Linked DNA regions of Homo sapiens: regions 1 and 2 are each linked to region 3. Evidence: fine-mapped expression QTL. A gene starts in region 3. Each other region holds a variant in brackets. All regions are shown on one strand. Distances are from middle to middle.

Region 1 (10,428 bases), 84 kb after region 3:
TTTGGGAGGCAGAGGCAGGAGGATTGCTTGAGCCCAGGAGTTTGAGATCAGTTTGGGCAACACAGGGAGACTCCACCTCTACAAAAAATGCAAAAAATTAGCGGAGCATTGTGGCACACACCTATAGCTCCAGCTACTCAGGAGGCTGAAGCGGGAGGATCACTTGAGCCTGGGAGTTGGAGGCTGCAGTGAGCCCACATCACAGCACTGTACTGCAGCCTGGGCAACAGTGTGAGATTCCGTTTCAAAAATAAAAATAAAAGAAATATCTGCAAACATCTGCTCCTTACACTGGTTGCACACATACTTCACCTCAATTCCATTTGAAAGTCTCCCCTATTTTAAGTTTTCTAATATCCACAGTCAAGATCAACCAGTCTCATAAGTCAGTCATCTAGTTTCTGCATTTTGGATCTCTGACCTTCAGATATTATATAGAAATTGTGGACTCTAGTGTCAGCCATTGTTTCTCATCTAATCCTATAAAAAAGTTGAATTCAAATAACTATTGAGGCTGGGCGTGGTGGCTCACGTCTGTAATCCCAGTGCTTTGGGAGGCCGAGGCAGGTGGATTGACTGAGCTCAGGAGTTCGAGACCAGCCTGGGCAACACGGTGAAACCCCGTCTCTACTAAAATACAAAAAATTAGCTGGGCGTGGCGGCATGAGCCTGTAGTCCTAGTTACTCAGGAGACTGAGGCAGGAGAATTGCTTGAACCCGGGAGGCGGAGGTTGCAGTGAGCTAAGATTGCGCCGCTGTACTCCAGTCTGGAAAAGAGCAAGACTCCATCTCTAAAAAAAAAAAAAAAGAAAAAAAGAAAGAAAAAAAAATTGTGGACTCTAGTGTCAGTCAGTGTTTTTCATCCAATCCTACACAGAAGTTGAATTCAAATAACTATTGAGGCCGGGGGTGGGGGCTGGCTCACGCCTGTAATCCCAGAACTTTGGGAGGTTGAGGTGGGCAAATAACTTAAGGTCAGGAGTTAAAGGCCAGCCTGGCCAACATGGTGAAATCTTGTCTCTACTAAAAATACAAAAATTAGCTGGGCATGGTGGTGCACGCCTGTAATCTCAGTTACTTGGGTGGCTGAGGCAGGAGAATTACTTGAACCCGGGAGGTGGAGGCTGCAGTGAGCCAAGATCACACCACTGTACTCTAGCCTGGGCAACAGAGTGAGACTCTGTCTCAAAGAAAAGCCGGGTGTGGTGGCTCACACCTGTAATCCCAGCACTTTGGGAGGCTGAGGCAGGTGGATCACCTGAGGTCAGAAGTTTGAGACCAGCCTGGCCAACATGGTGAAACCCTGTCTCTACTAAAAATACAAAAATTAGTTAGGTGTGGTGGTGGGCGCCTGTAATCCCAGCTATTTGGGAGGCTGAGGCAGGAAAATCGCTTGAACCCGGGAGGCAGAGGTTGCAGTGAGCTGAGATCATGCCACTGCATTCCAGCCTGGGCGACAGAGCGAGACTTGGTCTAAAAACAGAATAAAACAAAACAAAAAACCAACCAAGAAAACCTATTGATCTAATGTGATGTGAGGGGCTCTGAAAAGTCAGCTGGCTACTTTGCTCTTTTTACCACTTTTACCCTGTGCCTAAAATTCCTGCCATTAGACTTCTGTGTTAAGGTACTGTTTCTTGAAGGTCACTGTTAAAATTCGAGGTAATCTCAGAAGACTTTCCATATAAGGATTTTTTTTTTTTTCGAGATGGAGTTTAGCTCTTGTTGCCCAGGCTGGAGTGCAATGGTGTGATCTTGGCTCACTGCAACCTCTGCCTCCCAGATTCAAGTGATTCTCCTGCCTTAGCCTCCCAAGTAGCTGGGATTACAGGCCTGTGCCACCACACCCGGCTATTTTTTGTATTTTTTGCAAAGACGGGATTTAGCAGAGATGGGATTTCATTACGTTGGCCAGGCTGGTGCTGAACTCCTGACCTCAAGTGATCCACCCGCCTTGGCCTCCCAAAATGTTGGGTGGCATGAGCCACTGCCCCGGCCCCATGTAAGCATTTGTCAGTCAACCTGTACAGACCATCTCTGGTCAGTTCTGTGCCACAGGTGCAATGCCTAAGGGTGGAGAACTGAGTGAGGAGATGGAAAATACTCTTATAATGGCTGGGCATGGTGGCTTACGCCTGTAATTTCAGCACTTTGGGAAGCTGAGGTGGGTGGATCACTTAAGGTCAGGAGTTTGAGACCAGCCTGGTTAACATAGTGAAACCCCGTCTCTACTAAAAATACAAAAATTAGCTGGACGTGGTGGCGGGTGCCTGTAATCCCAGCTACTCGAGAGGCTGAGGCAGAATTGTTGAACCCAGGAGGTAGAGGTTACAGTGAGCCGAAATCACGCCACTGCAGTCCAGCTTAGGCAACAGAGCAAGACTCTGTCTCAAAAAAATTAAAAAAAAAAGGAAAAACAAATATTCTCACAAGACAACGCAAGCTACAACAAGTCAACTTAACTCAAATGCTAAGAGTCAGGAAGGGCAGTGGAGGAGTGGTTGGAGTGAGAAGAGAGGACTCAAGATGGCTTTGTGCGTGTGCTTGTTTCGAATGAGGTCTTAAAGTAACTCAAGTATTGAAGCCAGCTAAGTAACCCAAACGCCATCATTGTACAGGGTTTTATTTTGGTAGAAGGGGGATGCTTTATGCACACATAAGGCAAATGTGGATTTGCTGAATGTTAGATTTGAAGTTTCCTGTTTTGACCATTAGCTGACTATGAGAAAGATTTCATCATAAAGAAGGGATCTTGTTGGAAGACTGAGTAGTTTATGAAAAATTTTTTTGGCTGGGTGTGGTGGCTCACAGTAATCCTGTTACTTTGGAGGGCTGAGACAGGAAGATGACTTGAGGCCAGGAGTTTGAGACCAGCCTGGGCATCATGGTGAGGCCTGTCTTTTTTTAAAAAAATGATAAATTAAATTAATTTTAAAAAATTTAATTGGACACATCTTGACCATTAGCTGAATAATGGTCAAAACAGTAGCAAGGCTGGGTGCGGTGGCTCACACCTGTAATCCCAGCACTATGGGAGGCTGAGGCAGGTGGATCACATGAGGTCAAGAGTTCAAGACCAGCCTGGCCAACATGGCAAACCTCATCTCTCCTAAAAAAAATAAATAAATAATTAGCCGGGCATGGTGGCAGGCACCTGTGATCCTAGGTACTTGAAAGGCTGAGGCAGGAGAATCCCTTGAACCTGGGAGGCAGAGGTTACAGTGAGCTGAGATCATGCCATTGCACTCTAGCCTGGGCAACAAGAGTGAAACTCCGCCTCAAAACAAACAAACAAACAAACAAAAACCTCCAAAACAAAAACAGTAGCAAAACAGGCCTGGGAATCTTCAGGGTCCCATAAAGGAGCAGAGGCAGATTGTGTGTTAAGTGGGACTTTAGGAAGGCTATCAGGTTGTAGTGAGAAGAGCCTGATGAGAAATCGGCAGATATAGGTGCAAATCCTGACCTCTTCCCTTCTTCTTCTTTTTTTTTTTTTTTTGAGACGGAGTTTTGCTCTTGTTGCCCCGCATGGAGTGCAATGGCGCAATCTCAGCTCACTGCAACCTCTGCCTCCTGGGTTAAAGCGATTCTCTTGCCCCAGCCTTCCAAGTAGCTGGGATTACAAGCATGCGCCACCACACCCAGCTAATTTTGTATTTTCAGTAGAGACGGGGTTTCTCCATGTTGGTCAGGCTGGTCTTGAACTCCTGACCTCAGGTGATCCACCTGCCTTGGCCTCCCAAAGTGCTGGGATTACAGGTGTGAACCACCACGCCCAGCCTCGATCTGAGTAAACTTTGACATGTCACTAAACTTCTGGCCTCCCTTGCCTGCAAATACCTTATCTACAGTTGCCATAGACAGTCTAAGCTTCAAGGGACTCTGACCATAGTTAACACATATGAGAGGATTTTGTAAACTATGTTGGGTACATATAAAGTTTGGATTTTTTTTGTTATTGTTGTTTTAAACCAAACTCAAAGCCTATATTTTGCTCACCTGTGTGAGATCTATACCTCAAGATTTCTTATATGGCATTAAAATAGTGAAATCAAAAACCATGGTTTGAATGACTCACTACTGCAGATGGTAGAGTGAGTTTGAATGAGGGAGGAAGGCCATGATCCCGAGATTTGTCCGGAGAGAGAATCTGTGGCTGTTGGCAACAGAATTAAGCCCCAGAAACAAAGGGACCCTTTATTTGAGAGAGGTCCTGAGGTATCATCACAGTTATGGTTTGTAGTCGCAGTGGGAACAAGGATAGCATTGTGGGCAGGTGTGTGGCCTAATGGAAAACAACAGTATGAAGAGTGAGTAACTGGGGTATGGAGGATGGCGTCAGCCCAAGGACAAAGGTGCATCACTGAGAAGGAATCTTGTTGGAGGACTGAGTAGTTCCCTGAAGATGTTTTTATTTTTATTTTTATTTTTTTTTTGAGACAGAGTCTCATTTTGTCACCCAGGCTGGAGTATAGTGGTGCGATCTTGGCTCACTGCAACCTCCACCTCCCGGGTTCAAGCGATTCTCATACCTCAGCCTCCCAAGTAGCTAGGATTATAGGCGTCCGCCATCACATCTGGCTAACTTTTGTATTTTTATAGAGACGGGGGTTTCACCATGTTGGCCAGGCTGGTCTCGAACTCCTGACCTCAGGTGATCTGCCTGCCTTGGCCTCCCAAAGTATCGGGATTACAGGCATGAGCCACCGGCCTGAAGATGTTTTTGATGAGCCACATCTTGAGCTGGGAAAATAACACCATGAAAGCAGAGTTAGAGCCAATCGATCTAACAATTGTGGTCAATTGATTGGTAACAAAGGTGCCAAGAACACACAGTGAGAAAAAAACAGTCTCTTTATTTTTATTTTTGACAGTCTCTTTAATAAATGGTGTTAGGAAAACTGGCTATCCACATGCCGAAGAATGAAATTAGAGCCTTATCTCGCACCATACCCAAAAATCAACTCAAAGTGGAATAAAGACTCAAATGTAAGACCTGAAACTATAAAGCTACTCAGGAGGCTGAGGCAGGAGAATTGCTTGAACCTGGGAGG[C/T]GGAGGTTGCAGTGAGCCGAGATGGCACCAATGCACTCCAGCCTGGGCGACAAGAGCGTGACTCTGTCTCAAAAAGAAAAAAAAAAGTAAAGTAAAGTAAATGTGAAGAAATAGGAGTTGTTCCGGCAGTCTTATGCTTTTCTGGTCACACTGGGAGCTTATGTGTCCCTATGATGTGGGAGACCCTGGGACTTGATTTTCTTCCTATTTTCTCAGAAAAGAGCCTCAGAAATATTCACATAGGACTGCCTTGACCCTGCGATGGCAAATAACGTCACTCATGTGCAAATTCAGACAAATAGTAGCAGCTGCCTGGAATACTGTGCTGTGTGGGGCTCTAAGGCACATTTGGGGATCTGAGAAGTGGACAAGAACATTATTACACGTGGCTCAGTGATGTCTTGCCCGTGGTGGCAATCCTGCCGATTATTTTGCTGACCTTGTTAAGACTCCAGATTCCTGGTGATGAGCCTCATATGCTGGGATGCAGCTTTCTTCTCCTTTGTCCTCTGATTACTTTTTCCCTATACCCTCTGCTGTTGTCTAGTTTCAGTGCCACACCACGCCCCCAACCTCAACTTTCCGCTCACCTTCTCAAAGCCCAGTACTGACCCCTCCTCTAAGCCAGCCTTTTCTTCTCTGTCTTCCCTCTCATGGTGGTTTTTGGGAGGCTGAGGTTTCTGGGTGGTGCTGCATTTCTCCCACTGTGAAACGGACGGTGGTTTCACCTAAGACAGACATGGACCTTACAGGACCCCAACGCACCTCTTAGGCTTAAAGAACTTGCCCAAGAAGGATCTGTCATCCAAGCACAGTAAAAACGTGATCTTGCTGGGTCAGGTTCAGAATTGGTTGCTCTGGCCTCCTTGATACAGATGTTCCTCAACTTATAATGGGGTTACATCCTGATCAACCTATCGTAAGGTGAACATTTTGTAAGTTGAAAATGCATTCAGGCCGGGTGCAGTGGCTCATGTCTATAATCCTAGCACTTTGGGGGGCCCAGGCAGGTGGATCACCTGAGGTCAGGAGTTCGAGACCACCCTGGCCAACACGGCAAAACCTCGTCTCTACTAAAAATACAAATATTACAGGTGGCGAGTGCCTGTAACCCCAGCTACTTGGGAGGCTGAGGCAGGAGAATGGCTTGAATCCGGGAGGCGGAGGTTGCAGTGAGCTTAGATCATGCTACTGCACTCCAGCCTGGGTGACACAGCAGGACTCCATCTCAAAAAAAAAAAAAAAAAGAAAAGAAAAGAAAAAAAGAAACAGGGTTTCATCATGTTGGCCAGGCTGGTCTCAAACTCCTGACCTCAGGTGATCTGCCCACCTCGGCCTCCCAAAGTGCTGGGATTATGGGCGTGAGCCCCCGCCCCCGGCCTATACTTCAAATTCTGAATTTTGATCTCTTTCCAGGCGTGGTGGCATGTGCCTGTAATTCCAGTTACTCAGGAGGCTGAGGCAGGAGAAGTGCTTGAACCCGGGAGGTGGAGGTTGCAATGAGCTGAGATTGTGCCACTGCACTCCAGCCTGGGCAACAGAACAAAACTGTCTCAAAAAAAAAAAAAAAAAAAAAAAAAAGAAGTATATTTTCTACTGAATGTGTATTGTTCCCGCACTGTTGTAAAGTCAAAAACTTGCAAGTTGAAGCATTGTTAAGTTGGGGACCATCTGTATAATTGTTAACTCCAGAGTAGGAAGTTGCTCCTTTGCTCTACTTCCTTACATCTTCACAGCTGGAGGTGTAAGGGGGAACACCAAGGATGTAACTGAACCTTGATTCAGCTTCAGCCAGTCACGTTACTGTGCAGAGGTGAGATATGAATATTTTTGTCCATCAAGTTTCCACTGAACAGAGGCCCAGCACCACCAGTGCCTCCTGCAGAACTCTCAAAGACATGTGACATGGTCCTGGACCTCAAGGACAGCTGTGTGTCTGTAGGAAATAGTTAAATCACATGAGGCAAGATTCGTCTGTGTCACATTGAGTGAGACTTTGGGTATGTAGGATGTTCTGTGAGGTTGGCCTAGTTAAAAGAAGAAAGGCAGGAGTAAGGAAGCAGCTGGCAGTGATAAGAAGCGGAGCCCGGGCGCAGTGGCTCATGCCTGTAATCCCAACACTTTGGGAGGCCGAGGTAGGTGGATCACTTGAGGTGAAGAGTTCGAGACCAGCTTGTCCAACACGGCGAAACCCTGTCTCTACTGAAAATACAAAAATTAGCCAGGAGTGGTGGTGCATGTCTGTAATCCCAACTACTTGGGAGGCTGAAGCAGGAGAATCGCTTGAACCCAGCAGGCGGAGGTTGCAGTGAGCCAAGATTGCACCATTGCACTCCAGCCTGGGCGACAAGAGTGAAGCTCTGTCTCAAAAATAAAATAAAATAAAATAATAAAATAATAAAATAAAAATGTAAGAAAGGAGTGCAGCCAGTGCCTGTAGCCCTCCTTCTCACATATTCTACAGATAGAAGAGAAGGGACAAGGGTGAAATAGTGCAGTGTGTCTTTGGTTTCTCCATGTGTTTGTCTCTGTGTGAATTCAGGAGGGTGGTCAGTGTTCCTATCTACCTTTTTTTTTTTTTTTAAGAGGAACAGAACTGCTCATACTCACCTATAAAGCCAATTCTGTGGAAGTCCTGAACCTGTTAGTAGACCGTGAAACATCAGCCCCTGCCCAGTCATACACATCCTCATACAGGCTGAAAGTGGGAACAGTATTTACAAACCATATGTCCTTGTCTCCTTCACTCAGTAGATTCCTATTACTCCAGGTGGCACCTAGGTTGGCTAGTGTAATAAAGCAGACGGTGGGCCAGGCGTGGTAGCTCACGGCTGTAATCCCAGCACTTTGGGAGGCCGAGGTGGGCGGATCACCTGAGCTCAGGAGTTCCAGACAAGCCTGACTAACATGGAGAAACCCTGTCTCTACTAAAAATACAAAAATTAGCCGGGCGTGGTGGCACGTGGCTGTATTCCCAGCTACTCAGGAGGCTGAGGCAGGAGAATCGCTTGAACCTCGGAGGTGGAGGTTGCGGTGAGCCAAGATCACGCCATTGCACTCCAGCCTGAGCGACAAGAGCAAGACTCCATCTCAAAAAACAAAACAAAATAAAATAAAATAAAGCAAACGGTGAGCCGGGGAGTGGCTGAGAGGAGACAACTTATCCTTTTCCTTCCTAACTCACACACAAGCGCAGGTCAGATTAAGCACTGCCAAAGCTGGGGCCAATGATTCTCAAACTTTATTGTGCATCAGAGCCATGAAGTGTTGTTAAAACACACATTTCTGGGCCGGGCTTGGTGGCTCACACCTGTAATCCTGGCACTTTGGGAGGCCGAGGCAGGTGGATCACCTGAGGACAGGAGATCAAGACCAGCCTGGCCAATACGGTGAAACCCCATCTCTACTAAAAGTACAAAAATTAGCCAGGTGTGGTGGTGCATACTTATAATCCCAGCTACTCGGGAGGCTGAGGCAGGAGAATCACTTGAACCCAGGAGGCGGAGGTTGTGGTGAGCTGAGATGGCACCACTGCACCCCAGCCTGGGCGACAGAGTGGACTCCATCTCAAAAAACAACAGCCACCAAACCAAACAAAACAAAACAAAAAAGCCACAACACATTTCTGAGCTCCAACTCCAGAGTTTCTGATTTAGAAGATCTGTGGGTGGGGCCTAAGAATTTTCATTTCTAACAAGTCCCCAGGTGATGCTAATGCTGCTGGTTTAGAGACCACACTTTGAGAACCATTGGCCTATGCTATTGGTTTTCAACCATGGCTGTAGGTCAGAATTACCTGGAAAGTTAAAAGCAAAACAATCCACGTCCAGATCTTTTTTCAGATCAATTTCAACAGAGTCTATGTGGGAGGCACCAGACAGCCATGATTTTAGACCCCAGGTGATTCCAATGTGCAGTCAAGTGTAGGGGTGGGTTGCCCCTCCACACCTGTGGGTGTTTCTCGTAAGGTGGAACGAGAGACTTAGGAAAGAAAAAGACACAGAGACAAAGTATAGAGAAAGAAATAAGGGGACCCAGGGAACCAGCGTTCAGCATATGGAGGATCCCGCCAGCCTCTGAGTTCCCTTAGTATTTATTGATCATTTGTGGGTGTTTCTCGAAGAGGGGGATGTGTCAGGGTCACAAGACAATTGTGGGGAGAGGGTCAGCAGACAAACACGTGAACAAAGGTCTTTGCATCATAGACAATGTAAAGGATTAAGTGCTGTGCTTTTAGATATGCATACACATAAACATCTCAATGCTTTACAAAGCAGTATTGCTGCCCGCAGGTCCCACTCCAGCCCTAAGGCAGTTTTTCCCTATCTCAGTAGATGGAGCATACAATCGGGTTTTATACCGAGACATTCCATTGCCCAGGGACAGGCAGGAGACAGATGCCTTCCTCTTGTCTCAACTGCAAGAGGCATTCCTTCCTCTTATACTAATCCTCCTCAGCACAGACCCTTTACGGGTGTCGGGCTGGGGGATGGTCAGGTCTTTCCCTTCCCACGAGGCCATATTTCAGACTACCACATGGGGAGAAACCTTGGACAATACCTGGCTTTCCTAGGCAGAGGTCCCTGCGGCCTTCCGCAGTTTTTGTGTCCCTGGGTACTTGAGATTAGGGAGTGGTGATGACTCTTAAGGAGCATGCTGCCTTCAGGCATCTGTTTAACAAAGCACATCTTGCACCGCCCTTAATCCATTCAACTCTGAGTTGACACAGCACATGTTTCAGAGAGCACGGGGTTGGGGGTAAGGTTATAGATTAACAGAATCTCAAGGCAGAAGAATTTTTCTTAGTACAGAACAAAATGGAGTCTCCTATGTCTACTTCTTTCTACACAGACACAGTAACAATCTGATCTCTCTTGCTTTTCCCCACAGTCAAGGTTGAGAATCACGATTTAGGCTCTTGAGGCAGACACCCATTAATGCAGGTGTACTAGATAAAGCTCAGTAAAACCAAATATCTTCCACCCTTGGTTCTGCGGCAGGATATTTTTGTAGTCTGGGCGTCTTTCCTTGGGATAAATGTAGCTTGCAATGATTTTGATGGAAATGGACTTTTCTTGGATCACGGCTTGGAGAAAGTTTTGAGCAGAGTGAGGAAGGTTGCAATGGCAACCGTGGAAAATGGTAGACAAGCTGAGTAGGGAAACAGAAAGTGATTTCTGGGCCTGTGGAAAGCAGAGACCATAAGATTACCTTAGGACTCTTAAACAAAATATATTTTTCCCACTCACCATTAGCCGCATGGGCAAGGAAAACAGATTTTTTTTTTTTTGACATAGAATCTCGCTCTGTGGCCCAGGCTGGAGTGCAGTGGCGTGATCTTGGCTCACGGCAACCTCTGCCTCCCAGGTTCAAG
Region 2 (10,428 bases), 100 kb before region 3:
ACACTGTGCGATCGGCTCTTAATAAATAAATATAATCCTGGCAAAGGGGAGAGAGACCGTGGGGAGGCCGTCCATCCATTTTCCTGCCTTTGAGCACAGCTCCTGGGAAAGCAACAGAACCAAAATATTTGTGGGAGATAACAGGGCCCAGACCCCTCCCAGAACCCCAGATGCTACAGAGCACCCAGCCCTTCTGGGTCATCATTCAAAACAGAGCCTGCTGCAGAGCTTGGGGCCTCCCCCAAATTCCTCCTGCCTGGCCCAGAACATTCCTAAGAGTCATTCCCCTCCCTAGCCTGGGCACTGGTGCTGACATGTTCCCCCAGCCTCACCCTTTGTGGTACTGAGCCCAGTCCCTGAGGATGGAGCAGCAGGGAGTGTGGCAATGGCTGTCGGGAGTTTTGGCGCTGACGCCAGGTCTCCCCTCCCAACAGCCATTCAGAGAAGCACTTACTAAGCACTTCTGTATACTCTGTATAGATGAGCATGAGCCATGGTCCTGGCCTCCAAGGCCCTTTGGCTTTTTGGGAACACACACACTCATGCACACAAAGAAAGGGAGAAAGGTGACAGGGAGGTCTACCTGCCAGGTGTGTGTGGTGGAGATCGCGGCAGGCTAGAGGCATTAGTGGCCGGGCGCCCCCTTCTGGACCTGTTGGGCACAGGTCCTCCCCTCCTCTCACTGTGCTCTGCTCTCCAAGGAATAGGCACATGCAAATTACTTTTATTGCATATGCAAATATATGTGTCCACCCAACCTTTTCCTGCATTGGATGTGGCTTTTAGTGAAAACTTGGACAAGCATGCTGATTTCCAGGAAGACTGGTTGGAGCCATCTTCTCTGCCTGCGGGTCTCAGCTGCTCTCCCTGGGAGGTGCAGACCCAGAGCCCTCCTCATCTCCTGGCCTTGTTACTCTCTGTGCTGGAGGAGTTTCTCTCAGGGTCTTCCCAGGTTCCCTGTTGCAGCTGTCGAGGTAGACCCTATGCAATCTTTATGTCTCTAGCAGACCTAGAGAATCACTATTTCTTAGCCCCCTTTCTGCTTCTAAGTCAGGGACTGGCAAACTTCTTCTGTGAAGGGCCAGATGGTAAATATTTCAGGCTTTGCGGGTCATATTTGCTGTCCCAGCTACACGGTTCTGTTGTTGTACCACGAAAGCAGCAATAGTCAGTACGTAAACGAATGAGTGTGGCTATAACCCCAGCACCCTCACTGCGGTCACTCACGTTTCAATGTTTTACACTTTCACATGTCATTTAGGATTCCTTTTTTTGTTTTTTCCCGCAACCATTTAAAAATGTAAAACCCAGGCCAGACGCAATGGCTCAAGCCTGTAATCCCAGCACTTCGGGAGGCTGGGGCAGGAGGATCACCTGAGGTCAGGAGTTCAAGACCAGCCTGGCCAACACGGTGACACCTCGTCTCTACTGAAAATACAAAAATTAGCCGGGCGTGGTGGCATGCGCCTGTAATCCCAGCTACTTGGGAGGCTGAGGCAGGAGAATCGCTTGAACCTGGGAGGCGGAGGTTGCAGTGAGCTGAGATCGCGCCACTGCACTCCACTCTGGGCGACAGAGTAAGACCCTGTCTCAAAAAAAAAAAAAAAGTGAAAACCATTCTTGACTTGCTGACCATATAGAAGCAGGCCTTGGGCCAGCCCTGATCCAAAGCAGAAGTTCCTTTTTTTTTTTTTGAGACAGAGTCTTGCTCTGTCACTCAGGCTGGAGTGCAGCGGCGCGATCTCGGCTCACTGCAACCTCTGCCTCCCAGGTTCAAGCGATTCTCCTGTGTCAGCATCCTGAGTAGCTGGGATTACAGGTGCCCACCACCACGCCCGGCTAATTTTTTGTATTTTTAGTAGAGATGGGGTTTCACCATGTTAGCCAGGATGGTCTCGAATTCCTGACCTCATGATCCGCCCGCCTTGGCCTCCCAAAGTGCTAGGATTACAGGCATGAGCCACTGAGCCCGGCCCAAAGCAGTAGTATTTTGTTTTGGGTTTTTTGTTTGTTTGTTTTTTGAGACAGAGTCTCACTCTGTCACCCAGGCTGGAGTTCAGTGGCGCAATCTCAGCTCACTGCAAGCTCCGCCTTCCGGGTTCACGCCGTTCTCCTGCCTCAGCCTCCCAAGTAGCTGGGACTACAGGAGCCCGCCACCACGCCCGGCTACTTTTTTTTTTTTTTTTTTTTTAGTAGAGACAGGGTTTCACCGTGTTATCCAGGATGGTCTTGAACTCCTGACCTTGTGATCCACCCACCTCGGCCTCCCAAAATGCTGGGATTACAGGAGTGAGCCTCCGCGCCCAGCCATAAAGCAGTAGTTCTTAACCGCTGTAGGGTTTGGAATCCCAATGAGAATCTGATGAAAGTACTAGACCCTTCCTCAGGGAAAATGCATATACCTGCATCATTTTGTTTACAGTTTCAGGGATTCCTTGGACTCCTACTCTAAACCCAGCCCCACCCTGCCAGTTCTTTTCCATCTGTATTCCTTCTCCTCTTTTTTTTTTTTTTTTTTGAGACGGAGTCTTGCTCACCATGTTGGCCAGGCTGGTCTTGAACTCCTGACCTCAGGTGATCCGCCTGCCTCAGCCTCCCAAAGTGCTGGGATTACAGGCATGAGCCACCGCACCCAGCCTTTTTCCCTCTCTGTCTTGACTTGAGGAAATCCTGTGGCCTTTGTGAGGCTTCTGTGGCCCTTGCTCTCTAGCTCATACCAGTTCTAACCCCAAGGTCTCTTATCCTCCTCCAGGAGTCTAGCAGGGGATTGGGGCAGGGGTGGGAGGGCTTGTCTGACTGATACTTTTCCTTTCGGTACCTTCCTGGGATCCTAGCTGGTGATGGAGTTCTGTGGTGCTGGTTCAGTGACTGACCTGGTAAAGAACACAAAAGGCAACGCCCTGAAGGAGGACTGTATCGCCTATATCTGCAGGGAGATCCTCAGGGTGAGCTCAAGGCCCCTCCCCTTGTCTTCTCCTCCGCTACCCTGGCTGGAGTTTCTCCATGAGCAAAGATCCTCCCTGCGCTGGGAGGAGACATCACTGCCCTCTTTAGGGAGCAGCAGGCCTGATGCGGGTGGGATGTGGAAGCAGGGTCCACACCTTGGGAAGTCTCAGGCTGTTGGAGGAGACAAGCTCCTGTTTCCAAGCTCTGCCGCTTCTCCACCTGTAACCCTGCAACTGCTGGGAATTCACCTGGAGCCACCTCTCTGAGGAAGCTCTCCAGGACAGCTCAGCTTGCTTGGGCTCCTGGTGGAGAAGGTCTGCTCCTTCAGCCCAGCCCTGTCCAGACTGACTGCTCCTTGTCCCCTCAACTCACTCCCCACTTACTCTTTCCTACCCCATCCAACACCATGGCTAATTTTCCCTGCTCTCCTGTCCCAGGGTCTGGCCCATCTCCATGCCCACAAGGTGATCCATCGAGACATCAAGGGGCAGAATGTGCTGCTGACAGAGAATGCTGAGGTCAAGCTAGGTGCGCCGGCTCCTTCTGAGGCTGACGAGGACCTTTCACCTCCAGAACAGAGAATGAGGGGCCCCTTTTTCTCTCTGGTGGCTCAGGCCCAACTCCCTTCCTACTGGGGAGGCTCACTCCCTCCCCTTTCCCCTCTCCCCCTGGAATGCCCTGCCTCCTGCTGAAAATCCCTCAGGAAGCTCTTCACCTGTCACCTGTTACGGGCCAGGTGCTCTGCAGGTTGCTCTGGGGAGATGGGATCTGATGGCCCTCCTGCCTGGGATGCTGTCCGTGATCCTTTTACCTGGGTTTTTCTCTAAGATGCTGGAAGATGGAATCGGGTTCTTCAGGATGGTGGTGGGGTAAAGGAGGGTGCTGGGGTGTCTGGGTCGGGCCAGGACCACAGCTGGCTCAGGCAAGTCCTGTGTGTGCACGCAGGGATGTGAGGCAAGGGAGCAGAGGTGACTCCCCACACTGACCCCTCCCTCTGTGTCTTCACAGTGGATTTTGGGGTGAGTGCTCAGCTGGACCGCACCGTGGGCAGACGGAACACTTTCATTGGGACTCCCTACTGGATGGCTCCAGAGGTCATCGCCTGTGATGAGAACCCTGATGCCACCTATGATTACAGGGTATGGAGTGGAAAGTTGGGAGCATGGGGGCTGCCAAGGGCGGGAAGCAATATGGGGACCACGGGGCCTGAGCAGGCTGGGGAACAGAGGAAGGTCAGATGATGTTAGCAGTGAGGGGCTGGGGAACATCTTACGGCAAGGCAAGTGTGGGTGGGAAGATGGGATGGGTTGGAAGGCACTGCTGCAGGAATGGGTGTGGCCCAGGAAGGCTCCTGAGAGGCCAGGATGGTGGGTGAAGAGAGGTTGCAGGGCAGAGTTGTCAGGAATATTCACTTGTTCCTTCTTTCCCGTCTATAGAGTGATATTTGGTCTCTAGGAATCACAGCCATCGAGATGGCAGAGGGAGCCCCCCGTAAGTTCTGAGTCTGCCGGGAGTGGGAGGGGAGGGAAAGGAAGGGCCCAGAGAGTGGCTGTAGGGAGGAGGTGGGTCCTGGGACCCTGCCGAGGAAGGGTCCTGTAGCTCCCAGTGCAGTGAAAGGGACTGAGGGTGTCTCCTCTGTGTCCAGCTCTGTGTGACATGCACCCCATGCGAGCCCTCTTCCTCATTCCTCGGAACCCTCCGCCCAGGCTCAAGTCCAAGAAGTGGTAGGTCTCTGAGAGTGTGGGCTCTGGGAAGGAAGGTCCCTGGACAAGGCCATCCCCACCTTCATGCCCTCTGTGCTCAGGCTTGGATCTCACCAGAGAAGAGATTCTGGGGGGCAGAGGGCGGTGACTGGTGTTGGGATATGAAGACAGGAGGGACGTCAAGGTGGCTTGTGGATGAATGATCCACCCTCTTCCTCCTGCACCCATCCCTTCTGAGGGGACCCTCCCAGTGTGAGCCACCACTGTTTCCAGGTCTAAGAAGTTCATTGACTTCATTGACACATGTCTCATCAAGACTTACCTGAGCCGCCCACCCACGGAGCAGCTACTGAAGTTTCCCTTCATCCGGGACCAGCCCACGGAGCGGCAGGTCCGCATCCAGCTTAAGGACCACATTGACCGATCCCGGAAGAAGCGGGGTGAGAAAGGTCAGTGGGCAGGCTGG[AG/A]GGGGCAGGTACTAGGGGACACTCCAGCCTGGCTCCTCTCTGCCAGCCCTGCTCGCTCCTGGCACCCCTTCCTGCTCCCCTCCTTGGCCCCAGCTCTCCCTGTCCAAGGAGATCGTTCTCAAACTTGCAACCCCCAAGGGGTTTTCCCTCCTTTCCCTCCCAGTCTGAATCAGCCTTCCAAAGGAGGACCGGCCTTTCGCATCCTTACAAAAACTCCATGCTAAGCACATGTGTGTGCGAGCACAAGCACAGGCTCTGCCACACCTCAGCTGCCCTGGGACCCAGTCCCGGTCCTGTCCAGGCCCACACCTGAGACCCGCTGTCCTCCCATTGCCCCCAGGAAGTGGGTGGGGCCCCTCATGCTTGCCCAGCCAGAGAGACCTGGTTATCCCCACCCAAGGTTTCCCTAGCCCACGGCGGGTCTGGGGCGCTGGGTGAGATAACTGCAGTGGCCTCCCCCTGCAGAGGAGACAGAATATGAGTACAGCGGCAGCGAGGAGGAAGATGACAGCCATGGAGAGGAAGGAGAGCCAAGGTAGGCCTGGCAGGTGGAGTGGGGGTTGGGGCGGTCATCGCTGAGTGGGGGGACTACAGTGGTGCTTGGCTTTGGGGACTCTCAGCCTGGGGGTGGTGGGCACAGAGAGGTAGAGACTCCTGGAAACCAAATTTCTGAGTGCTAAGAAGTGGAACCAATGACTGAGCAAGAGCTGGGGAGAGAGCAATTTGTGGTGAATGTGGGGCGCAGCAGTAATAGGAAAGGAGGACAGGACTGAAGACTGGGCAGAAGGGGACGGTAAGTCTCCTGGCCACCTGGGAGTGGCCAGAGGCAGAGGCTTTGATCCAGTTAAAGCACCCACTCAGGCGGGCCCACGGGGTTGAGAGTGGGAACCAACAGGGTTCTGACCCCAGTGCTTCTTTGTGCCACCCCTGCCCAGCTCCATCATGAACGTGCCTGGAGAGTCGACTCTACGCCGGGAGTTTCTCCGGCTCCAGCAGGAAAATAAGAGCAACTCAGAGGCTTTAAAACAGCAGCAGCAGCTGCAGCAGCAGCAGCAGCGAGACCCCGAGGCACACATCAAACACCTGCTGCACCAGCGGCAGCGGCGCATAGAGGAGCAGAAGGAGGAGCGGCGCCGCGTGGAGGAGGTGGGCTGTCTCCGAAGGGCCCAGGCCTGGCGCGGCCTCCTCCTGACCTGCCCCGGGTCCATTAGGGCCTTGGAGAACAGGTTTTAAAATGCCTTAAATGAATGGCATTTCTGTTGAAACAATTATATGATTTCAAATTTCATGATGAGCTGGACTTAACACAAAATGTAATCCCATCACTTTGGGAGGCTGAGGTGGGTAGATCACCTGAGGTCAGGAGTTTGAGACCAGCCTGGCCAACATGGTGAAACCCCATCTCTACTAATAATACAAAAATTAGCCAGGTGTGGTGGCGCATGCCTGTAATCCCAGCTACTCCGGAGGCTGAGGCAGGAGAATTGCTTGAACCCGGGAGGCGGAGGTTGCAGTGAGCAGAGATCACACCACTGCACTCCAGCCTGGGTGACAGAGCAAGACTCCGTCTCTAATAATAATAAGCAATAACCCGCAGCACCCACACTGTCCACCTGCTACCTCCAAAGTAGGCCCTCTCATTGTTGAACAAAAAATAATTTGCAAGAAAACCTGCTACAGAAGAGCCTTGTGCAGTTTTGAAAATATAGGCCAGGTGAGGTGGCTCACGCCTGTAATCCCAGCACTTTGGGAGTCGGAGGATGGGGGCGGATCGTGAGATCAGGAGTTCGAGACCAGCCTGTCTAATATGGTGAAACCCCATCTCTACTAAAAATACACAAATTAGCCAGGCGTGGTGGTGCACGCGCCTATAGTTCCAGCTACTTAGGAGGCTGAGGCAGGAGAATCGCTTGAACCTGGGAGGTGGAAGTTGTAGTGAGCTGAGATCACGCCACTGGCCTGGGGAACAGAGCAAGACTCCGTCTCCAAAAAATAAAAAAATAAAATAAATATAGCGTTCAGATAGTATAGTAACAAAGTCCTATCTTTTTTTTTTTTTTTTTTTTGAGATGGAGTTTTGCTCTTGTTGCCCAGGGTGACGAGTGCAGTGGCGCACTCTAGGCTCACCGCAAAACCTCCGTCTCCCAGGTTCAAGTGATTCTCCTGCCTCAGCCTCCTGAGGAGCTGGGATTACAGGAATGCGCCACCACGCCCGGCTAATTTTGTATTTTTTTCAGTAGAGACAGGGTTTCTGCATGTTGGTCAGGCTGGTCTCGAACTCCCGACCTCAGGTGATCCACCTGCCTCGGCCTCCCAAAGTGCTGGGATTACAGGTGTGAGCCACCGCGCCCAGCCACAGAGTCCTATCTAACAAGGTGTTACCTGGAGAAGGCCTGCTGGCAACTTCATTGCAGAAGTAGGCACAAGTTCCCTCAAGTGTAAGGGTCCCTCAGGGTTTGTGCTTTTGTTGGTGGTGGTGGTGGTAGACTTCGTGAAAGCCACCACAGAAATACCGTGAAAGTAAAGTACCACCTGGGCACTGGTGCTTGTCAAGGAGTGGGCCAGGTCCCTCTTTTCTGTGCTTTCTGTGCACGGGCACCTGGTGCCCTCTTGTGGCCAAAGGCTATCACTACGACCCGCTCTATATGGACTTCAGGCAAAGGTCGATTTTAGGCTAGGAGTGCTGGGGAGGCTTGTTTTGAGTTCGGCTTTGGTTTGTTGTTTGGTGGGGTGTGGGGAGTGGAAGGTGTTGTCTAGCTAAGCCCACCCCACAGGCAGCAGTCAGTCTCACAGCCTCTCTCGTCACAGCTACCGGCTGTTTACCCGAGCCCAGCCCCGCGGGCCCTTGGGTGGGGATGGGTATAGTTGCAGAAACAAGCGGAAGCCGGTCTCTCTTACCACCCTCCGTGGTGAGCAAGGAGGGCTCCCCTCCCTGTCCATGGAGGGGCAGTGCTGACGCGATGTCCGGTATGGTTCTTAAGACCACCTGGCTCTCCCCACAGCAACAGCGGCGGGAGCGGGAGCAGCGGAAGCTGCAGGAGAAGGAGCAGCAGCGGCGGCTGGAGGACATGCAGGCTCTGCGGCGGGAGGAGGAGCGGCGGCAGGCGGAGCGCGAGCAGGTAGAGCGCCGCACCCGCATCCCTGCCCTCCCGCCCTCCCGCTCCTGCTGCCTGCCGCCCCTGCTCCCCGTGCCCTTCCCCCTTCTCTCCCCCACCCCCAGATTCCTCCTATCTTTTCTAGCTTCACTCTTTCTCTCTGTTTTCTCCCACCCTTCAACCCCAACCCTGACCCCCTCCCTCTTCCTTCCCTGCCTCATTCCCATCTCTTTACCCCATCCCTGACTCCCCGACCCCTTCCTCATCCCCCCTCATTCCCTGTGCCCTCTTCTTCCCCATCTGTGCCGCATGGCCCCCTGGGGCTCATGTCATCCCCTCCCCTACCTCTCTCTTACTCTTCCCCTGCACCCCCTCATTCTCCTGCGGATCCCTTCCTCCTTCTCCAACTCGCTGCTGCTGCCCTCCTCTGCCTCTTCCTCCTTCCCTGCCCTCTGCCCCCCACCCCACACCCCGTCCCCCAGGAATATATTCGTCACAGGCTAGAGGAGGAGCAGCGACAGCTCGAGATCCTTCAGCAACAGCTGCTCCAGGAACAGGCCCTGCTGCTGGTAACGGGTCCCTCAGCGTCCTCTGGGAAGATGCTTTTCAGAGCTTCTTTGCTGGAACGGGATGGGAACACTTCAAGGGAAGGGATTCACCCAGGACATCAAGGGAATACATCTCCTCTCTAGGCAGTTGGAGAAAAGAGAGGGCATGCCTGCTCTAACTCCCAGGGCCACACCCTGCTGAGCCCTCTCTCCCTACCCTTGGGCCCAGGAATACAAGCGGAAGCAGCTGGAGGAGCAGCGGCAGTCAGAACGTCTCCAGAGGCAGCTGCAGCAGGAGCATGCCTACCTCAAGTCCCTGCAGCAGCAGCAACAGCAGCAGCAGCTTCAGAAACAGCAGCAGCAGCAGCTCCTGCCTGGGGACAGGAAGCCCCTGTACCATTATGGTCGGGGCATGAATCCCGCTGACAAACCAGCCTGGGCCCGAGAGGTACTCACTGCCTCCTTTGCCTCCTGAGACTGCAGTCCCACTGCCTGAGGCCTGGAGAGCCACAAGAAGTAGTAGTTCACAGTAGCAGGCACCAAGTAGGGGAAAGGAGCACACAGCACAGAGCATAGGGCGGGAGTAGTTAGGGCAGGTGGGACCCTCAGTTTTGAGAACAGGGAGGCAAGAGCTGGCCTGCTTGACATCCCTTCACATCACAGGTAGAAGAGAGAACAAGGATGAACAAGCAGCAGAACTCTCCCTTGGCCAAGAGCAAGCCAGGCAGCACGGGGCCTGAGCCCCCCATCCCCCAGGCCTCCCCAGGGCCCCCAGGACCCCTTTCCCAGACTCCTCCTATGCAGAGGCCGGTGGAGCCCCAGGAGGGACCGCACAAGGTGAGTCTCTCCCCACCCCTGTCTTAATGAAGACACAGGGAGCTTTGTTCAGAGCACAGGTACACACACACGCGCGCACACACACACACACACACACACACCTGCTCAGCCGTGAGCCAGGATTACAGAGCACAGGCTTTGTGGACAGACTCACTCACCTGCTTCTTGCTGCCTGTGTCTGTCCTGACTTAGCTGTCATCAGGCTCAAGGAACCCCTTGTCCTTCAATGGAGGAAGGGGCAGCTAAAGTCCTTTCCCACCCCAGACCCCAATTCGCAGGTGGGGATGTGCCATGGAGCAGGCAGCCCACCCTCCCTGGTCTCTCCCTGCAGAGCCTGGTGGCACACCGGGTCCCACTGAAGCCATATGCAGCACCTGTACCCCGATCCCAGTCCCTGCAGGACCAGCCCACCCGAAACCTGGCTGCCTTCCCAGCCTCCCATGACCCCGACCCTGCCATCCCCGCACCCACTGCCACGCCCAGTGCCCGAGGAGCTGTCATCCGCCAGAATTCAGACCCCACCTCTGAAGGACCTGGCCCCAGCCCGAATCCCCCAGCCTGGGTCCGCCCAGATAACGAGGCCCCACCCAAGGTAAGGACAGTTCTGCAGGCCCAGGGAAAAGCAGAGAGCTAGTCATGAAGAGAAGGAGGGCAGTGAAGGGGCAGGCCACATGGAGGAAGAGTGCAGGGCGGGAAGCGAGAGAAAGCCAGGGCGCTGCCCTGCCGGGGTCAGCCGTCCAGCTGAGGACGCGACGTGGAGGGGTGGCATCGATCCCTGTGGGGAGCGTGGGAACGGAGAAACGCCCAGGGTGTTTTGGGAGCGCTAAGGGGC
Region 3 (5,231 bases):
GCATCGTTTTACTGACAGTCCTCTTCTGACATCAAATTGATAAATATCAACAACCAACTACATACAAGGCAGTAAGTATGCAGAATACAGAAAATGTGTAACACAAGGACTGTGCCTCCTCCAGAAAGAGCCAGTATCAGTGGTGGTTAATAACAAAGGTTCCAGCCGGGCGTGGTGGCTCATGCCTGTAATCCTAGCACTGTAGGAGGCCGAGATGGGCGGATCACTAGGTCTAGAGTTCGAGACCAGCCTGGCCAACATAGTGAAACCCCATCTCTACTAAAAATACAAAAATTAGCCAGGTGTGGTGGCGTGCCTGTAGTCCCAGCTACTCCGGAGGCTGAGGCAGGAGAATGGCGTAAACCTGGGAGGCAGAGCTTGCAGTGAGCCGAGATCGCGCCACTGCACTCCAGCCTGGGCGACAGAGCGAGACTCCATCTCAAAAAAAAAACAAACAAAAATTAGCCGGGCGTGGAGGCACATGCCTGTAATCCCAGCTACTTGGGAGGCTGAGGCAGGGGAATCACTTGAATCCAGGAGGCGGGGGTTGCAGTGAGCCAAGATCGCGCCATTGTACTCCAGCCTGGGCAACAAGAGCGAGACTCCGTCTCAAAAAAAAAGGCCCTGGAGTAAGTTAGATAAACTATGAGGTAAATCAGTTTCCTCATCAATAACATAGGAGCAATAACAGGGCTTGCTCTATAGAACCGTTAGAGGATTAAATGAGACAAGGCAGGCCAAATGTTTAGCACGGTGCCCAGTATGTAAGGAATACTTTACTGGCAGTAGCTTTTGTTTTTACCCAGGTGGCTATGCCACAGAAAAGAGGGCTCCTTCAAGATCCATGTCTTTTTGTTTTTGTTTTTGAGACGGAGTCTCACTCTGTCACCCAGGCTGGAGTGCAGTGGCGTGATCTCAGCTCACTGCAGCCTCCGCCTCCCTGGCTCAAGTAATTCTCCCGCCTCAGCCTCTCGAGTAGCTGGGATTACAGGCGTACATCACCACGCCTGGCTGCTTTTTGTATTTTTAGTAGAGACGGGGTTCCACCATGTTTGCCAGGCTGGTCTTGAACTCCTGACCTCAGATGATCCACCCGCCTCAGCCTCCCAAAGTGCTGGGATTACAGGCATGAGCCACCATGCCCGGCCAAGATCCATGTTTTTATACCTCTCCTAGGATCCCCAAAGAGCTTAGAATGGTGCTCTGCACTTAGGAGTGTTGACAGACACGGAAAGACCCCCCACTCACCCTCCTCCAGCCTACTAGGTCTTGCTGGGCCCCAACCCCCAGCCTCCCTAGAAAACCTCATTTGTATTCCACCGTAGCCTCTCTGGAGGCAGCAGCGGGCAGCGAGGAAGACACTCCAGCAGCTTCTTGGGGAGAAAGATCTTCAGGTGGTGGCTGTTTTCTAAAGGGAATTAGAAGGGAGGGTTTAGTGTGCTACCCTGGGGCATCCCTGTGATAGTCCAAGGGGAAAGGGCTGAAGGCAATACAGAGCACTGGGGAAAACTGAAACCTCACTAAGGAGAACAGAAAATCCAAGAATTAGAGGGCCACTAAAGCGTGGGGAGAACGAAAGGCTGTGGCCACATTGGGAACCTGGTTTGTGAACTTACCAGCAACCTCGGTGGTGTCCTTGGTATTCATGGTGAGGGCTCCAGGGGGCAAGGTCACCCCCGGCCTGAGGGGCCGGGGGGAGGGGGAGTCTGTGCTGGGAAGGGAGAGAACAAGGTCATGGCAGAAGCCCCCACATTAATCCAGGATGAGAAGTATGAGGTAGGGAGTGGGTATAGAACTGGGTCATAGTATCTGGGAAGGATGAGGAAAGGGAGGGAGGGGCTGACTGTGATGTGACAGTAGAAGAGAGAACAACACACAGTGCCCGGAGCCAATATGAGTGAGCAGACTGGACAGGAAGAGTGAGCAGGAAGAAATGGGTTGGGGTGGGGGAGCGGGGAGAAGACTGGCAGGGCTTGGGCCTCAGAGGCCCTAAACCTTGAGCTTTTGCACAGACTGGGGCTATGGTTGGGTCAGGTCCTGGGGGTTGGGACTCAGGCCATCCGGTCCTTGGAGGATGGTTTGGCAAGAGAGCCTGGATCCTGGGGGCAGGGCAGGAGATTCTACCTCCGGTAGAAGCTAGGCCTTTAGAAGACACGCCCTGAGTTCCTTCTCTGTTTGATTTTTCCAAGGGGAAGGGCAGATCTGATAACTGAACCTAACCTATTCTCTCCTCCAGGTTGGTTAGGACCTGATAGAATCTGGGCCAGACACCCAGATTCCCACCCTCAGGACAACCCACCCTCCGGCTGACAGCCCTCTCTACGTAGCTCCCTCTCCCCAAACGCCTCTGCCTCCCCTGGCCTCCAGGCCTAGCCTACCCCATCTACCGCTCTGGCTCCAGCCTGAGCCCCCCGCCCTCCTCGGGGAACAGATGGGAGCTGGCGGAGGCTCTCAGCACGGGCTCCGCCAGGTGTCCAGGATGGAGATGGGAGGAGGCCCGTCGGGCTCGGCTATGTGCAGTGAAGCTGGGGTTGGGGTAAGGACTCCGCCCCAGGGCGCAGGTGCGCAGTCCTGGCTAGGCAGCCTGCCAGGGTGCGGAGCGGGAGCGGGTCCTTGGGCTGCACTTGGGCGGCGCCGGATCGGACGCTTGGCACTCTGGGCGGCCCCCCGGCGGAGTGGTGGTCCCAGGAGAACCTCCGAGGTGGGAGGGTCCCGCCCGCATAGAGGGATGTTCTGGAGAAGCCGGGAGCAGAGTCCGCGGGCACGCGGTGGGCGAGGGACAGTGCAGGTGCCGGGTGCGGGGGTCTCCGGGACAGTCCCCGGCACGCGCTGGTCCGCCGTGGGGCCCTGCGGTGAGCGGCGCCCCCTGGCGCGGGGGAGGAGGACGGAAGCGGGAGGTGAGGGCGAACCGGGAAGAGGGACGGTGGTCCCTGGCGCGGCGCTCCGCGTCGGGACCTGGAGGAGCTGCGCCCTCTGGCGCGGGGGCGGAGAGGCGGGCGAGAGGCCCTGGCTCTTACCTCCCGGGGTCCCGCGGGTGACGGCGGCAGCGGCCATTCTACCCCACACCGACCCCCCCCAGCGCCGGCTGACAGCGGCGTCTAACGTCACTGCGCACGGGGCGGGGCCTCCCAATTAAGGGGATGAGGGTCAGGAAGGGAACCTGGGGTCAGCACACGTGGAGTTCTGGGTGGGGCGCTGGGCAGAGGGACTCGGCTTCTAGGGCTCTGAGCCAGGCCGAGGGACAGACTGCTGGGAAGTCCCCAAAAGGGCAGCAGCACTGAGGGGCAGGATTCCAGGGTCCTGGAGGCGGAAGCTCGGCCGACTGACTCCCAGTTCGAGAGAACGGGGCGGGGGCAGCCCACCAGTGCTGGAACCCGAGGGGCCGGGCGAGGAACGCTGGACTGGGAGCAGGACCCTTCTCGCCTCGGACAAGACTCCTTGTCTGGGGACCCAGCCCGACTTCATTGTAGCTGGGTCCTCGAGAAAGCGAAAGGAGCCCTCCTTCCCCATTGGCCTCTCCATCGCTGCATCCCAAGAAGAAAGACAACTCGGGCTCCACTTGCTTGCTTTTTAATAACAGAGCAGAGAGAATACAAGGCCAGGAGCGGGGCCTGGAGGAAAACAGGACTTGGGGTGCTCCTGTGAGAGCGGTGGGTTGAGATGGGAGCCCACGGGGGCTGTTAATGCCTAGTTCAGAGGATGGGAAAGGCAGTTGGAGAGACGAAGGAAGGGGAAACGCCTTCATGTCAGCAATGAGGGTGACTCTAGTGACGGAACTAGTCTTGGGTCCCTGGGGCACCACTAGCCTCTCGGCATCGGTGGTTTCTCCTTACTCTTCAGACGCTGCCAACTCCATCCCCCAGGGATTGTGAAGGGGGTTCCTTCTGGCTGTGACAGTGCTGAACGAGGCCAGAGAGTGCAGCTGCCTGGAGGCACAAGCCTCCTCCTGATCCAGGGGGCTCCAGGGAGACCAAAGCAGCTGTCAAGATGAGAGAAATTGAAAAAGAAAATGGAAAAGTAGGTCTTCTTTCCAGATTTCCTAGTACCCAAGCTTAGGTACCTCGAAGTCTCTGGTTCTCACCTACGTTATTTTTGTTTCTCTCAAATCCAGCTCTCCAGCCTGGCTCTCAGCTTCTGCATCTCCATGCAAGACCAGAGACCCACATCACTCCCTCACTCCACCCAGTTCCACTCCAACAATACCTGGGCCCTGCCAGGAGTGAGAAAACGGTCCTCTTCCTGTGGATAGGTTGCTCTCTCCTCTTCCAGATCAGGGTATTCATTGGTGCTGGGGAATCCACAGCCCTCTTCGCCAAGCACCACTGGCTCAGATGCAGCCCCAGAGCTGCCCCACTGGGCCTTCTTCAGTCTGTGGAGACTTTAGGCTGAGGAGAGAAGTGCCTGGAGGCCAGGCTTCCTGTCTCTCCATTCTTCACCTTTCTGTTCTGAAATACTTCCTGCTGGGACTCCAGGGAGTTGTCATTTGACCTTTAACCCTCCACTCCCAATTTTCTGCTCCCCTCAGACTGAAGCATATTGTCTAGGAACCCAGAGGTGACCCCAACCTCCCCACTGTCCTCCAGTTCTATGGTTTGCTTTCCTGTCTTCAGTGATCTAGTTTCCACTCCTTCCAGCTCATGTGGCTCATCCTCCTTACTGCAGTTCCCTCCTTCTTTCCATATTACAGAAATCTGTTTCAATCACACCAAAGCCCACAGCTTCCTTCCAAGCAACCTCCCCTCAAAGCTCCCCTCAAACCTCCCCTCAAAGCTGTCAACCCCTTCCTTAGCTCAAACTGTTCTGCCCCCAAATCCTGCATGACTCCCAGAACCCAGATGTCTCCCTTCCTTACTCGTTGATGATGCTCTGACGCCTTCTTAGGTCCTCCAGGTGGTAAGTGACAGCCCTCACCCGGGCGGGGACTCCCCCAAGGCCCTGCTGCTGCATTCCTTCCAAACATGGCCTCCTCTTCTTTCTTCTCCAAAGCATTTCAGGGGGTGGGAGCTGCTCAGGAGGATACAGACCAAGCTGGGAGCAACCAGTGGCTCTCTGTGCCAGAGAATGGGGAAAAAGAGCTAGAAAGAAGAACTGGCTCTCTCAAGGGAGCTTGGATTGAACTAGGTAGGGAGTCTGGGGTCTTGGGAAGACCCCTGTGATCTCGAAAACATGATGACTGATTCATAGAAAGGAAGGCCTGGTCAGTGCACTGGTTGGGGAATAACAGAGGGAAG

What was found. PIP is the estimated chance that this variant, and not a neighbour inherited with it, causes the effect.
Region 1: its variant is fine-mapped to the expression of CAMTA2 in whole blood (INTERVAL, PIP above 0.99).
Region 2: its variant is fine-mapped to the expression of CAMTA2 in whole blood (TOPMed, PIP above 0.99).

What each region holds. Positions count from the first base shown.
Region 1 is chr17:5,065,704-5,076,131 of GRCh38, forward strand. It overlaps ZFP3-DT (ZFP3 divergent transcript), which reads right to left. Exons shown (of 2, transcript NR_186458.1): 2 at 9,975-10,237. Among named protein-coding and RNA genes, the nearest start is that of ZFP3-DT, 7.2 kb to the right of the region's middle. The variant C/T (reference allele first, on the strand shown) is at 5,055.
Region 2 is chr17:4,881,529-4,891,956 of GRCh38, forward strand. MINK1 (misshapen like kinase 1) reads left to right here. Exons shown (of 32, transcript NM_153827.5): 5 at 2,835-2,945; 6 at 3,384-3,474; 7 at 3,955-4,085; 8 at 4,383-4,437; 9 at 4,592-4,670; 10 at 4,923-5,098; 11 at 5,582-5,651; 12 at 6,052-6,262; 13 at 8,119-8,235; 14 at 8,989-9,207; 15 at 9,423-9,596; 16 at 9,928-10,188. It also overlaps the pseudogene RN7SL784P. Among named protein-coding and RNA genes, the nearest start is that of C17orf107, 13 kb to the right of the region's middle. RefSeq lists a silencer at 537-586 and an enhancer at 767-816. The variant AG/A (reference allele first, on the strand shown) is at 5,116.
Region 3 is chr17:4,984,576-4,989,806 of GRCh38, forward strand. It overlaps CAMTA2 (calmodulin binding transcription activator 2), which reads right to left and starts at 3,100. Exons shown (of 23, transcript NM_015099.4): 1 at 3,018-3,100; 2 at 1,617-1,711; 3 at 1,305-1,408. The coding sequence starts at 1,647. It overlaps INCA1 (inhibitor of CDK, cyclin A1 interacting protein 1), which reads right to left. Exons shown (of 7, transcript NM_001394789.1): 5 at 4,853-5,049; 6 at 4,204-4,369; 7 at 3,555-3,979. The coding sequence ends at 3,830. CAMTA2-AS1 (CAMTA2 antisense RNA 1) reads left to right here and starts at 3,169. Exons shown (of 3, transcript NR_187235.1): 1 at 3,169-3,650; 2 at 3,841-4,017; 3 at 4,112-5,231. RefSeq lists a silencer at 2,580-3,119.